Linked DNA regions of Homo sapiens. The protein of the gene in region 2 interacts with the protein of the main gene of each other region in a biochemical or structural test. Each region holds a gene or a part of one and is shown on either strand. Other genes may lie near its edges.

Region 1 (7,853 bases), on a different chromosome or scaffold from region 2:
CCACCTGTGCCTACAGGGCCTCCCTTGCAGCTGACAACAGCCCTGTAGCCAACCCCTAGGCCATCACAGAGGCCTCCAGGGCCCCTGGAGACACTGGAACCCTTACCTCCCACTTTCCTAGGGGCTTGTCTTGAAACTCCCCAAGAAAGACAGTGCTCTCTTGCCCTGGGCCCTCAGGGGAGGGACCTCGTGCACAAAATCCACTGAGGACCAAACATGCCTGAGTGCTGCTGTGTTTCATTCCAGGGGAGCAGCGGGTCACCTGCAGGTGACAGACCCAGCCCTCCAGTCTCAGCCCTGCCTGCGGAGGAGTTGGGGCGGCCCGGCACCGCGCCCGGTTCACAGCGAGATGAGGGGCGATCCACCCGCAGCCACAGGGCCGGGCCCTGGAAGCTCCACTAGCATCAGCTGCGGCCATGGCACGGGCCCTGAGGGGCCAGCAGTGACCTGAGCACCAGGACCCTGGAGGTGACCCTGACACCTTGGGGCCTCGGCGAGGGCGGGCACTCACACGGTGACCTTGCACAGGTGGCAGAACTGATTCTGGATCACGTGTGCATGTTTTGATCTGTCGAAGAGGGGCATGGGCTGAGAATAGTTCTTCATGAGTCTGACATTGGAGTCGGCCGGGTCGATGCAGGACGCGATCAGGTGGACGACGAGGTGGAACGAGAAGATCCCCCCGGTCACCTGGCATGTCAAGGAAGAACCTGGCCCAGGGCCTGGTCAGCCTGGCACGAGGCGTCCCCGTGAGGCCCAAGGGCCCAGAAGAGGCGTGGCCGCTGGTCAGCCCTGCTCACCCAGCCCTGCACACGTGAGCCCAGCTCACCCAGGCCTGGCCCTGCTCACACAGCCCTGCACACCCAGCCCTGCACAACTGAGCCCTGTTCGCCTGGCCCTGCTCACCTGGGCGTGCTCACCTGGGCCTGCACACCCAGCCCTGCACAGCCAGCCCTGCACAGCCAGCCCTGCACACCCAGCCCTGCTCACCCGAGCCCAGCTCACCCATGCCCGGCCCTGCTCACATGGCCCTGCTCATCCAGTCTTGCACACACGGCCCTATACACCCGGCCCTTCACACATGGCCCTGCACACACAGCCCTGCTCACCCAGATCTAGAGGAGATGAGTCCACCCGTCGGCCCTGCACACACAGCCCTGCTTACCCAGGCCTAGAGAAGATGAGGCTACCCATTGGCCCTGCATACACAGCCCTGTGCCAGTCGGGGACCGGGAAGGCTGCCCCCGTGCCCCTTTTGGTTCATCCCTGTTGGACACAGGGCAAATCCCCCACAGAATGTACCGCACCCCCAGAGGCTCAGTCAGCCCAGCCAAGCACAGTGACCCCAAAACCCTTTACAGCTTGAGGGACAGAGCAGGGCCACAGGAGGGACATCCCAGGTATAAACACAGCCGGATGCAGCCCCAAAGGCCCTGGAGGAGCCTGGGTTCTTTCATACCAGAGACCCCTGAGCACTGGGAGAGAAGACAGCCTCAGACAGGAGGAGCAGGGGGAGGAGCGAGGGAGCTGCACAACCTACCCGCTCCCTGTAGACCCCAGACAGCTCACTCAGGGACCCTCTCCCCGAGAATAGCTCAGGGAAACCCCCCTCAGACTCCCTCAGGGCCCCTCCGGACTCTCTCGGGGACTCCAGACTCTCTCGAGGACCCCAGACTCACTCAGGGACCCTGGGCCTCTTTCTTGGGCCCTCTGGGCTCAGAGCCTGGCTGCGGGGGCACTGGGGAGAGGATCCTTGTCCCCTGGAGCCAGGAGAAGCTGGGCTCCCCGTGCCTGGGACGTCAGCTCCCGCCCTCAGATCCTGGCTCCCTCCTCCTCTCACCCTGGGACAAACACAGACTCTCCATGGCAACCAAATAGAAGGGGTGGAGTGCGGGGCCCTCCAGTCACCCTGCCTGGCCCCTGGACCGCCTTCTAGCCAGGAGTTCAGGGTTGACAGCCATCTCCGCAGGGCAGCCCAGAGGCCCTCGCAGTGTGGCCTAAGCTTGGCATGGAAACGCAGGCTGCCGACCTGCGGGGCATGGCGCTGTTCCTCCTTGGCACCAGGGGCAAGGAGAAAGGTGCTGGCCATGTGCAAAATGCTGCGCAGGGATTTTAGCGGAAGGCTGCCAGCAGGGCGGGTCCTGCGCCACGCCAGGGGGCTGCTGTCCCTCCTGACAGATTCCCTCTCCGGAGCCCCCTCAGCCAACGCTGTCCTGTCCTGACCCTAAGCAGGGGCTGCACAGAGCATGAGTGGCCACTGGGCCCACCTGCAGGCTCAGGGGACATAGTCTGGCCCAGGGCAGGTGACTGGTGCCACCGGGCAGCCATGGCCCAGACCCCACAGCCAGGTCCATCGCAAGTTCCTCCAGGAACCCCTCCCGCTTAGACCATGCCACGATGAAAAGGATACCACGTAGGCAATGTATTTCCACGCGTGAGGCAGGAAGGGAATGAAGATCCCGAAGGTGGCCGAGGAAAGGCCCACGAAGACAGCCCAGGTCACCACCTGGAAGTAGTGCAGGGGTAACGACCAGCCGTTCACTCTGGAGATGCGGGGCGGCAAGACCAGCTTTTCATTATTGAGTATGGCTTCTGGGGTGACGGAACACTGGCTCCCGGAGCGGGTGTCCATCTGCAGGACACAGAAGGGGAGGACCTGCGCCGTCAGATCCTGGGAGGGCCGGCCCCGCCCACTGTCACAGAGACCAAGGGGACTGGGAATGCAGCCGCCAGGACCAGCACTGACAGCCAATGGCCCAGCACTGCCTGGGGCCACGTTCCCCGCAGAGGGAGCAGGGGCTGGGCTGGAGTCGGTGCAGGGCCCCGCCCAGGGGAATGAACAGACATGCTGCAGAATGTGACCCCGGCCAGAGCCGAGTGGCAACGGAAAACGGCTCTCCAGGGTGTGGAGGACCCAGTGCCCGCGCGACCGCCCATCAGTTCCCCTGAGGATTTGTTACGTTCTGGGGAGTGCTCGACAGCCCCCACACAGCGACAGGTCCCACAACCCGTTCACGAATACACAGGCCCACCCAGGACTCCCCAGGTGCAAGAAGAAAACCCACGTCAGAAAGAGGCCACACTGAGCAGAGGGCTGCGCCTGTGAGAAACTGAGGCAATGCCTGAAGAGCTCGTGAGCCGTTACTCACTGGTGCAACACTGAAACCTGCCAGATCCTCCCTGAGAGGCTTCTCTGAGCTTCCCAGAGGAGCAGGACCCGAGAGCTCACTTCACAGGGTCCTGTGTGTCTCCCCTTCCACAGGACAGGGAAGCCCGTCCAGCCACGCGGGGCTGGGGTCTCCGCCCGGGTGGACAGTGGCTGGGAGGTTCTGAACACGCTGCGGCTGCTCCTGGCCAGTCAGGTGGGGAGGGCGGCAGGGGTGGGAGGGACGTGGTGTCACAGAGCGGCAGTGAAAGACACTCAACGGCCGCTACGGGGTGGGGGGTTGATCTTGAGGGGCTGGGCGGTCTCTACAGAGGAGGGTTAGGAAGCTTCGCCACGTTATGCCTCGCTCAAAGTCCTTGTTGTCTCTTTGGGAAAAAACCTTCAGAAAATGAAGTTGATATTAAATGTATTTCTTTGAGAAGAGAGACATTGAGAAATAGTTAACAATTCTTCGTTCTTGCAGTCGTGAACGTCCATGATACAGTGGCTCTGCGCTGCCTTTGGTGGCTCCTCCCTGGTCCTCTAAATGTGACACCAGGCGGATGCGGGGCCACAGGACCCTGGGGCTTGAGTCACACAAGAATGTCTCTGGGAGACCCGAGAGACTCACAGTTATGAAACAGGACCATGGTTCTTTGGCCGGGCGCGGGGGCTCACGCCTGTAATCCCAGCACTGTGGGAAGCCGAGGCGTGCCTATCACCTGAGGTCAGGAGTTCCAGACCAGCCTGGGCAACACGGCGAAACCCTGTCTCTACTAAAAATACAAAGATTAGCAGGGCATGGTGGCACATGCCTCTAATCCCAGCTACTCGGGAGGCTGAGGCATGAGAATCGTTTGAACCTGGGAGGTCGAGGCTGCAGTGAGCCAAGATTGCACCACTGCATTCCAGCCTGGGCAACAGAGGGAGACTCCATCTCAAAAAAAAAAAAAAGAAAGAAAGAAAAGTCAAAGTTACCAAGGAAGGAAATAGAAACACAGAAAGACAACCCTGTACATTAAAAACACAATTCCCAGTTAAAAACAAAACCCAAATGAAAGTGCCAACAAACAGAAATGATGTCGCCAAGTCACATTGGTAAAACCTGGAATATCAAATCCAGGAAGGACCACAGATCTTAGAGAGGAGAAGAGGGGAATCGCTCAGCGGCCTTGAGCCTTGAGCCTGGAGACAACACGTTCATCTGTCAGGATTTCAGAACAGAAAGGTGGAGAGTCTGTGAGAGAAAAAAGAAAACACTGAAGAACTTTGAGAAGACTGAAGACTTCAGGTCGAAACTGTGCACCAAGAGCTGGAAAGGATGATTGGAAAAAGTAATACATCCAAATTAGAGAAAATGTGAGCAAGCCAGGGAGACAGACCCCACAGAGGACAACGAGCAGCGGGGACAGACTCCACAGAGGACAGTGAGCCAGGGGGACAGACCCCACGGAGGACAATGAGCAGCGGGGACAGACGCCACGGAGGACAGTAAGCTGGAGGTACAGACTCCACAGAGGACAGTGAGCAAGGGGGACAGACCCCACGGAGGACAGCGAGCCGGGGGGACAGACCACACGGAGGACAGCGAGCAGCGGGGACAGACCCCACAGAGGACAGCAAACCGGGGGACAGACCCCATGGAGGACAGCGAGCCGGGGGAAGAGACCCCACGGAGGACAGCAAGCAGCGGGGACAGACCCCACGGAGGACAGCGAGCCGGGGGTACAGACCACACGGAGGACAGCGAGCAGCGGGGACAGACCCCACGGAGGACAGTGAGCAGCGGGGACAGACCCCGCGGAGGACAGCGAGCCGAGGGGACAGACCCCACGCAGGACAGCAAGCAGCAGGGAAAGACCCCACGGAGGACAGCGAGCCAGGGGGACAGACCCCATGGAGGACAGCGAGCAGCGGGCACAGACCCCACGGAGGACAGCGAGCCAGGTGGACAGACCCCATGGAGGACAGCGAGCCAGGGGACACAGGCCCCACGGAGGACAATTAGCAGCGGGGACAGACCCCACGGAGGACAGCGAGCCAGGGAGACAGACCCCACAGAGGACAGCGAGCCAGGGGGCAGAGACTCCACAGAGGACAGCGAGCCGGGGGGCACGGACCCCACGGAGGACAGTGAGCAGCGGGCACAGACCCCACAGAGGACAGTGAGCAGCAGGGATAGACCCCACCGAGGACAGCGAGTCGGGCACAGACCCCGCAGAGGACAGCGAGTCGGGGGTACAGACCCCACGGAGGACAGCGAGCCAGGGGGACAGACCCCACAGAGGACAGTGAGCAGCGGGGACAGACCCCACAGAGGACAGTGAGCCAGGGGGCACAGACCCCACAGAGGACAGCGAGCGAGGAGCACAGACCCCACAGAGGACAGCGAGCTGGGGAGACAGATCCCACAGAGGACAGTGAGCAGCGGGGACAGACCCCACAGAGGACAGCAAGCCCGGGGGACAGACCCCACAGTGGACAGCAAGCCACGGGGACAGACCCCACAGAGGACAGCAAGCCAGGGGGACAGACCCCACAGAGGACAGCGAGCCACGGGGACAGACCCCATGTAGGACAGTGAGCCAGGGAGACAGACCCCACAGAGGACAGTGAGCTGGGGAGACAGATCCCATGGAGGACAGCAAGCCGGGGGGACAGACCGCACAGAGGACAGTGAGCAGCGGGGACAGACCCCACCGAGGACAGCCAGCTGGGGGCACAGACCCCACAGAGGACAGTGAGCAGCGGGGACAGACCCCACAGAGGACAGCAAGCCAGGGGGACAGACCCCACAGAGGACAGCAAGCCAGGGGGACAGACCCCACAGAGGACAGCAAGCCAGGGGGACAGACCCCACAGAGGACAGTGAGCTGGGGGCACAGATCCCATGGAGGACAGCAAGCCAGGGGGACAGACCGCACAGAGGACAGTGAGCAGCCGGGACAGACCCCACCGAGGACAGCGAGCCGGGGGGCACAGACCCCACGGAGGACAGTGAGGAGCGGGGACAGACCCCACAGAGGACAGCGAGCCGGGGGGCACAGACCACACAGAGGACAGCGAGCCGGGGGGACAGACCCCATGGAGGATAGCAAGCCAGGGGGTCAGACTGCCCAGAGGACATTGAGCAGTGTGGATAGACCCCACCAAGGACAGTGAGCCAGGGGCCACAGACCCCACGGAGGACAGCAAGCCAGGGGGACAGAACCCACAGAGGACAGCGAGCCGTGGGGACAGAACCCATGTAGGACAGAGAGCCAGGGAGACAGACCCCACGGAGGACAGTGAGCCGGGGGGCACAGACCCTACAGAGGACAGAGAGCCGGGGAGACAGACCCCACGGAGGACAGTGAGCAGCTGGGACAGACCCCACAGAGGACAGCGAGCCGGGGGGAGAGACACCATGGAGGACAGCGAGCCGGGGAGACAGATCCCACAGAGAACAGTGAGCCAGGGGTCACAGATCCCACAGAGGACAGCGAGCGAGTGGCACAGACCCCACAGAGGACAGCGAGCCAGGGTCACAGACCCCACAGAGGACAGTGAGCTGGGGGCACAGATCCCATGGAGGACAGCAAGCCGGGGGGACAGACCGCACAGAGGACAGTGAGCAGCCGGGACAGACCCCACCGAGGACAGCGAGCCGGAGGGCACAGACCCCACGGAGGACAGTGAGGAGCGGGGACAGACCCCACAGAGGACAGCGAGCCGGGGGGCACAGACCACACAGAGGACAGCGAGCCGGGGGGACAGACCCCATGGAGGATAGCAAGCCAGGGGGTCAGACTGCCCAGAGGACAGTGAGCAGTGGGGATAGACCCCACCAAGGACAGTGAGCCGGGGGGCACAGACCCCACGGAGGACAGCGAGCCAGGGGGACAGACCCCACAGAGGACAGTGAGCCAGGGGGACAGAACCCACAGAGGACAGCAAGCCAGGGGGACAGACCCCACAGAGGACAGCGAGCCGCGGGGACAGACCCCACGGAGGACAGCGAGCCGCGGGGACAGACCCCATGGAGGACAGCGAGCCGGGGGACACAGACCCTACAGAGAACAGAGAGCCGGGGAGACAGACCCCATGGAGAACAGTGAGCAGCGGGGACAGACCCCACAGAGGACAGCGAGCCGGGGGGAGAGACACCATGGAGGACAGCGAGCCAGGGAGACAGATCCCACAGAGGACAGCGAGCCAGGGGGCACAGACCCCACAGAGGACAGCGAGTCAGGGGGCACAGACCCCACAGAGGACAGAGAGCCGGGGAGACAGACCCCACAGAGGACAGCGAGCCAGGGGGCACAGACCCCATAGAGGACAGCGAGCCAGGGGGCACAGACCCCACAGAGGACAGTGAGCAGCGGGGACAGACCCCACAGAGGACAGCAAGCTGGGGTCACAGACCCCACAGAGGACAGCGAGCCGGCAAGACAGACCCCATGGAGGACAGCAAGCCGGGGGGACAGACCGCACAGAGGACAGTGAGCAGCGGGGACAGACCCCACCGAGGACAGTGAGCTGGGGGGCACAGACCCCACAGAGGACAGCCAGCCGGGGGGACAGACCCCACGGAGGACAGTGAGCCGGGGGGACAGACCCCACAGAGGACAGTGAGCAGCGGGGACAGACCCCACAGAGGACAGCGAGCGAGGGTTACAGACACCACAGAGGACAGTGAGCAGTGGGGACAGACCCCACAGAGGACAGT
Region 2 (7,019 bases):
AAAACTCTTCCTGGCTCACATCCCCACTTGTTCAGGTCTTTGTTCAAATGGTGCCTTCAGAAGAGGACTTTCCAGACCCTCCCCAGCACACCTGTCTCCTCCACCCCTGCAGACTCTCCCCTGAGCGCTCTTCACCATCGGACACACTCGATACATCTTGGTCCCTGCCTGGCTTCCTCCACTACAAAGGCAGGGGTTTTCCTCTGCATTAGTCATTGCTACACGTGACATCGAGAACAAGGCCCGTTGTTCTATGACACACACGTGTAGTAGGCACTCGCCACCCCACTCACCTTGCTCAGCTGGATCTCCATGAGGACATGGTGCTGCCGCCCGCTGCCCCCCTGCGTGCGCCATGAGTTCTGGGGCCGGTTGGGGCCAGAGCAGCGGGAAGGGGAGCTCCTGGGACCTGAGAGGCCAGTTCTTGCCCTGGGAAGAGGGACAGGGGCCAAGCTGACTCAGAGGAACCCCATTCCCTCCCCGTCCTCAGCGGGCCTTTTAGCCTGGGACAAGAGACCCCCGCTAGCCCCAGTCCTGGAAGGCAGGCGGGATAAGGAAGGATGAGGAAACTGAGGCCCACCTGGGGTGGATGGGGCTCAAGGTCTCCAGCTGCTGAAAGTCAGACCTGGACCAGCCTGAGCCCCAACCTTCACCAGCTGCCACCTGCACCCGCTCCTCCTCACCTGTGGCCGGGGTGGGGGCCAAAGTCTCGGCCCCCATAGAGGTGCCAGACGAGGGAGACCTCACGTAGCACCACCCGAGTGCTGGGCACTGGGAAATGGGCAGGTGCCCGCAGCAAGTCCGTGCTGCCGATCGGCCGTGAGAAGTAACCGTCCCTCACAACGATGGGGCCGGGATGCAGCTGTGTCACCACAGGCTCCCCATCTCGGGGCTGCAGGGAGGCCAGGTAGACGTGTGACACAGATGTTCGATCCAGCCCAGCTGCCCCCAGCCCCAGCAACCTGGCCTCACTTCTTTTTCATTTTTTTTTTTTTATAGACAGGGTCGGGTCATGTTCGGTCACCCAGGCTGGAGTGCAGTGGCACAATCACAGTTCACTGCAACCTCTGCCTCCTAGGCTCAAGCGATCCTCCATTCTCAGCCTCCTGAGTAGCAGGGACTGCAGACATGTGCCACCATATCTGGCTAATTTTATTTTTATTTTTTGTAGAGACGGGGTCTCACTATGTTGCTCAGGCTAATCTCTCATTGCTGGACTCAAGCAATTCTCCCACCTTGACCTCCCAAATTGCTGGGATTACAGGCGTAACCTACCATGCTTGGCCTCCTCCCTGTTTTTGATGAAAGATGACACTCCTGGGTTGCTATCACCCGAGTCTATGCCTGAGTGGTCTGTCCAAGAGGAGCCTGAGAATGCCAGGCTCCTGCCAGCCCTGCCTCCTAAGACCTGGGTGAGTTCAGACATTCCCACTGGCCCTTGCAGCCACATGGTTCTCCATCCCTCTTGCTAACTGCCCTCTCCTCTTCCTCCATCCCTTGAATTTCCCAGTCCCTCTGCCCAAAACACCAGGCCTCCTCTTCCTCTGGAAATCCCCCTACTCCATCAAAGCCCAGCATCAGGGCTGCCTCCCTAGGGTGGCACAGACCTAGCACCACCCCCGAGGTGATGGCAACCACCTCCTGCCTGCTTCTCTCACCACGGGAGCTCCAGATGGCCAGGCAACCACCCCTGAGTGTTCCGTCCCCGCTCCAAACACACCTGCCTGGACGGCAAACTGGTCCATCCCTCCCACCACGCACCGGGATGCCCAGGCCGGGAGCATCAAGGATGCAGAACTCATCACTGTCCAGGGTGTCTCCATCGCCCTCCTCTTCCCTTTCATCTTCCTTCTCCTCTGAGCATGACCCTAAGCTGCCAGCAGGGCCCCCGACAGGTGGTGAAGGGGGTGGGGCCCCACTCCGTTCACCTGGGAATAGGTAGACGGAGATGGGCGACGCCTGAGGGAGGTGGCCACCTATAGGAGAGAGGCCAGTTTGGAGAGGCGCCCACAGTGGGTGCCTGACTGTGTCTGCTGTCCCCACAGCACCCCCACTTCACCTGAAGGCTGGGCCAGCTCCCGTAGGCTGCGCTCGGTGTCCAGGAGGGCGTCGGCCAGGTCACGCTGGTTGATGAGGGCCGTCTCCACTGGGGGGCACGAGGGCAGAGAGGCAGGACTCTCCGAGAGCTGGGCCAGGCAGGGGAGGAGCAATGAGTGAGACAGGACAGAGCTCCCCCAACCCCAGGCCCGAGGGCCATGGCAGGGGAGGGGCCTGGCCGAGCTCTGGTAGCCTGTGTGGCCAGGCCTCACCTGTACCTTCTGGCCGGCGATCTCCGTGGGGCTGGGGGGCCGGGGTGGGGGGTGCAGATCGCCTGTGCTCATTACGTACTGGAGCAGGTTGACCAGCAGGGCACAGGAGTCGGCACAGCTGTGCACGTGTACCACATTGTTGGAGCAGCGCAGCTCGAATAGTGGCTGGCTCTGCAGGGGCGGGGTGGGGGGAGCAGCTATGTGAACACAGGGGCCACTGCCTGCTGGCCCCACCCGCTCGCTGGGAGGGCACCGCAGTTCTGATCCTGCCACAGGCAGAACAGGGATGGTCTCTCCTGGAGTGGATGACCTGCCCAGTAACTCCACTGAACAGATGAACAAACTGTTCACCCAGAGGGTGAAAGGGGCTTGGCCCAGGGCCATCCAAGGAAGCAGGAGTGTGCCCACCCACCCTACCCCACTCCCCGTGAAGGGCTCTGCATGCCTAGCGAGGCAGGGCAGGTTATCTCCATCTTACAGGAGATGAATCCGGGGACCTACAAAGGTGGCTGATTCCCAGGGCCTCGCTGGTGCCCTGGCTGCCGCGTCCTCTGGTGGCAGGGCTGAAACCCATTCATTCATTCAGCCAGCATCAAGGGACACCCCCACCAGGGCTGTACTATGGCCCTTTGCAGGAGGGGCGCTAACTGCAGCCCAGGAAGGGCAGGCATGAACTGTGTCCGGAGCCCAGGCACGTGAGGGAGCAGCAGCCCCTGAAGACTCCCTTGGCCCCTGCACCTGCTGTGGCTCCAGGAGCCAGAGTGACAGCCTCACTCACCAGTTTGCCCTCGGTGCTCCCTTTCCAGGTTTTAATCACAAGTTCCAAGAGGTCAACATCCAAAACACAGACATAATCTGCAGCAGAGGCGAGAGAAAGGTCCTGTGGCCCCCTTCCACCCGGCCCCGGCCCCAGCACCTGGGGGAAGGATCCGGTTGATCCAGGTGTAGTCCCTGCTGTGCGGGCTACGTGTGGGAGCTAAGGACCCGGCCAGCAGCTGCGGGGAGACACCTGGCTGCTCTGGGTGTGGCCGGGGCGGTGGTCCCTCAGAGGGGAGGGAGCCCAGTCCCGGCCCTGCCCACCTCGCCGCAGGTCCAGGGTCTCCACCTCACACTTGTCGGACAGGTACAAGGCGGAGTCATCGAGGATGAACCTGGGGGGGAACAGGGCTGAGAAGGGCCCGGGCACCGCTGCAGGGGGCAGCTCCACGGGAGCCGAGCAGAGGGGTCCCAAGCCCACAGGAGGTGGTATGGACAGGCCCCTCCAGCCTCAGCGTTCCTGCCTGCACAATGGGGAGAAGGCCCAGACAGCAGGCAGTGGGAAGCGGGCAGCACTTGCAGCTCTCAAAGTGCCTGCAGTTCCGACACCTCAATGGGGCCTCATGACAGTCCTGGGAAGGGGTGTCCATTTTTCTCCCTGCTGCATTTGTGGTTCTTCTAAAATAAGTCCTTATTTTTGGCTGGCGCGGTGGCTCACGCCTGTAATCCCAGCACTTGGAGAGGCTGAGGCAGGCGGATCACCTGATATCAGGAGTTTGAGACCAGCCTGGCCAACGTGGTGAAACCCCATGTCTACTAAAAATACAAATATTAGCCGAGCATGGTGGCGGGTGCCTGTAATCCCAGCTACTTGGAAGGCTGAGGCAGGAGAATCTCTTGAACTAGGGAGGCAGGGGTTGCAGCGAGCCTAGATCACACCACTGCACTCTAGCCTGGGCGACAGAGTGAGACTCCATCTCAAAAAGAAATAATAATAAGGGCTGGGCATGGTGGCTCATGCCTATAATCCCAGCACTTTTGGAGGCCAAGGCAGGCGGATCACGAGGTCAGGAGTTCGAGACCAGCCTGACCAACAAGGTGAAACCCTGTCTCTACTAAAAATACAAAACTTAGCTGGGTGTGGTGGTGGGTGCCTGTTGTCCCAGCTACTTGGGAGGCTGAGGCAGGAGAATCGCTTGAACCCAGGAGGCAGAGGTTGCAGTCGGCTGAGATTGCGCCACTGCACTCCAGCCTGCTGACAGAGCGAGACTCTGTCTCAAAAAAAAAAAATAAATAAAAAAGTCTTTATTTTAAGGGTAACATAATGAAAACTCCTTTAAGATATTTTAGAATAAAGAAAATAAAAATCATTCATCATTCCTAATCCCTAATTCTGAGAAAACCACCATACACATCTCCTTCCAAACTTTCTCTGCAGCTGCACGCCGAGACATATAAACACCCCTTCATAAACTGATTTTAAAACGTACGCAGTCCTGTATCCAATGTTATTTGAGTAAACACTGTACTGTGGCATCTTTCTATATTTTTTATCTATCTATCTATCTATCTATCTATCTATCTATCTATCTATCTATGTATTTATTTGAGACGGAGTCTCGCTCTGTCACCCAGGCTGGAGTGCAGTGGCGCAATCTTCGCTCACCGTAACCTCCGCCTCCCAGATTCAAGTGATTCTCCTGCCTCAGCCTCCCAAGTAGCTGGGACTACAGGCGCCTGCCACCACCCCCGGCTCATTTTTGTATTTTTAGTAGAGACGGGGTTTCACCATATTGGCCAGGCTGGTCTCGAACTCCTGACCTTGTGATCTGCCTGCCTCAGCCTCCCAAAGTGCTGGGATTACAGGTGTGAGCCACCGCACCCTCCATCTTCTTATATTTTGAAGGGATTCTTCAGCTTCACCTTAATCCCTGCATGGTTTTCTACCTACTAGGTGGGCCATGCTTATTTGCTCAGGTTGTGAGGCTTGTGATTTAACTGATACGTTTTGGCTGTTTTAACTTATACTCCATAAGCATTAAATCCCACCTCTCTTATTCGCATATCCTAGGACAACCCTCAGACATGAGATTACAGGTCAGAGAGCACAAATGCTTATAAGGGTCTCATCAGGAGGCTCCAACTGCCCTCTAGAAAGGCGGAAACAATCCACATTCCTGAGAATGAGACTATCACCCGGGTGTACATTAAGACCGAGAGCACCAGAGGACACACAGCTGGCAGGCAGCTTCGGCCCGGCGAGGGTGGGATGGCCCAGTGTGGGGCGGCCTGCATACCTGAGCAGGAAGGTGGAGGTGTCCATGATGATGTTGCTGGAGAGAGTGAAGGTCTCCGCGGTGATGAGGACACGCACTGGGAGGTAGAGTGGCCTGGGGGTGATACTCGGGCTGGGGCCGGCTCCTTACACCTGAGAGCCCATCCCCGTCCCCAGCCCCTGGCCCACCCAGCCTGGTACCTATAGTCCACAGAGCAGGAGAACAGGTGTGTGTGCAGGATGGTGATGACCGTCGGGGGCAGGTAGCCCAGCACAGGGTCATCCAGCACGTCTAGGAACTCCAACAACTTCAGAGGCCAGGGCAGGAGGAAGCAGTGAGGATCAGGTGGTGTCCTCCCTCCTCTAACCCCTCCCTGTCCTGGCCCCTGCCTGGCACCTCACCTTCTGCCCACTAGCTGTCTGCCACACCCCTTGCCCAGGAGCTCCGGACAAGGTCAGCTGTGGCCCAGTCCATGTTCCTCCCACCGGCCTCCTCCCACCTAGAGACCTGCTTGCCCAAAACAGAAGTCCAGAGTCACTGGGCCATGTGGCTTCCCACCACCCACGCTCACCTGGGAATGCCAGCTCTGCTCGGGCAGGGCCATGTAGTGGCGCAAGGTGGCTTTGTGCAACCGCAGTGTCACCAGGAACTCCTGAGGGTGGGGGCGCAGTCAGGGCAGTGGGGAGGCCAGCCCCACCGTGCACTGGGGCCTCACCGCGCACTGGGGTCCCACCGCACACCGGGGCTGCAGCCCAGGCTAGCAGGAGGGGTGGATGGTAGGCAAGCCCATACCTTCACATTCTTGTGGGGGTCCAGGTGGATGCGCACAGCAGTGGACAACATGTGGGGTCCCCGGCCCTGGCCCTTGCGGCCCGAGGCTCCCCGCTCGGTCACCCCTTCCTCCGATGGGTAGATGGTTGGGGCCAGCTGAGCCGGGGGAGCGAAACTGGGAAGGTCCAGGTGACTGGGCAGCGGGTAGTCATCCACGGCCGCTGGGGAGGGGTCTCATGAGCCCCCTGCCAAGCCAACTGGCTACCCACTCCACCCAGGGCCCACATCCGTCCTGAAAGCCCTCCACCCCCAACCCTGGACCCCAGTGGTGACCTGCCCCCAGGCCTCACACCTCGGTGGTAGAGTGTTGCCTTTTCAGCTTCCAGACAGAAGTAGCCAAGTCCTGGCTGGCCACAGTACTGGGAGACGCTGAAGAGGGTACCGTGCTCCATGTCCAGCACCAGCTCCCCGTGCACAGCCTCCAGCCGCTTCCCACCCTCATCCTGCAGAAGGAGCACACAGCCTGGCTTCCCCAGCTGCACTCAGCAACCCTCAAGCCCTCTGGGGGTTGGCGGCTCCTGGAGCCCTGGCCTAAGGGGGTCAGCTCCAGTTTCCACCATGGACGCTGCTGGAGGCCCTGGATGGCACTTGCCTCTTTTGCCAGGAGAAAAATAATCTCTGCCGGGTCTGCCCGCTCGGAGTGGGAACAGTGGGTGCTCCATGCCCATCCCGACCCCTAGCATGGTGCTTTACATACAGCAGGGGGTCAGAAGGAGCTGATGGGCTGTGACAGGGTGGGCAGGCTGGCGTGGGTGGGCTGGCGCTGCCCACTCAGGCCTCCTGCTCTCCACATTCTTGACCTGGAGCTGCTCGCGCTGGTCTTGCTCTGCCGCCAATGGGAGCTCTG

The links.
Region 1: the proteins of ATG2A (region 2) and ZDHHC11 form a complex in vitro, tested with the Homo sapiens proteins (one study listed by BioGRID).

The regions. Positions count from the first base shown.
Region 1 is NC_000005.10:847,971-855,823, forward strand, and holds the start of ZDHHC11 (palmitoyltransferase ZDHHC11), read right to left. Parts: upstream 3,017-7,853; 5' UTR 2,633-3,016; coding exon 2,411-2,632; intron 691-2,410; coding exon 512-690; intron 1-511. UniProt on the Homo sapiens protein: Endoplasmic reticulum-localized palmitoyltransferase that could catalyze the addition of palmitate onto various protein substrates and be involved in a variety of cellular processes.
Region 2 is NC_000011.10:64,900,201-64,907,219, forward strand, and holds part of ATG2A (autophagy-related protein 2 homolog A), read right to left. Parts: intron 6,616-7,019; coding exon 6,465-6,615; intron 6,334-6,464; coding exon 6,134-6,333; intron 5,994-6,133; coding exon 5,913-5,993; intron 5,649-5,912; coding exon 5,542-5,648; intron 5,456-5,541; coding exon 5,363-5,455; intron 3,477-5,362; exon of another isoform or gene 3,461-3,476; coding exon 3,390-3,460; intron 3,165-3,389; coding exon 3,088-3,164; intron 2,481-3,087; coding exon 2,316-2,480; coding exon of another isoform or gene 2,310-2,315; intron 2,256-2,309; exon of another isoform or gene 2,187-2,255; coding exon 2,060-2,186; intron 1,977-2,059; coding exon 1,762-1,976; intron 893-1,761; coding exon 684-892; intron 430-683; coding exon 294-429; intron 1-293. UniProt on the Homo sapiens protein: Lipid transfer protein involved in autophagosome assembly. Tethers the edge of the isolation membrane (IM) to the endoplasmic reticulum (ER) and mediates direct lipid transfer from ER to IM for IM expansion.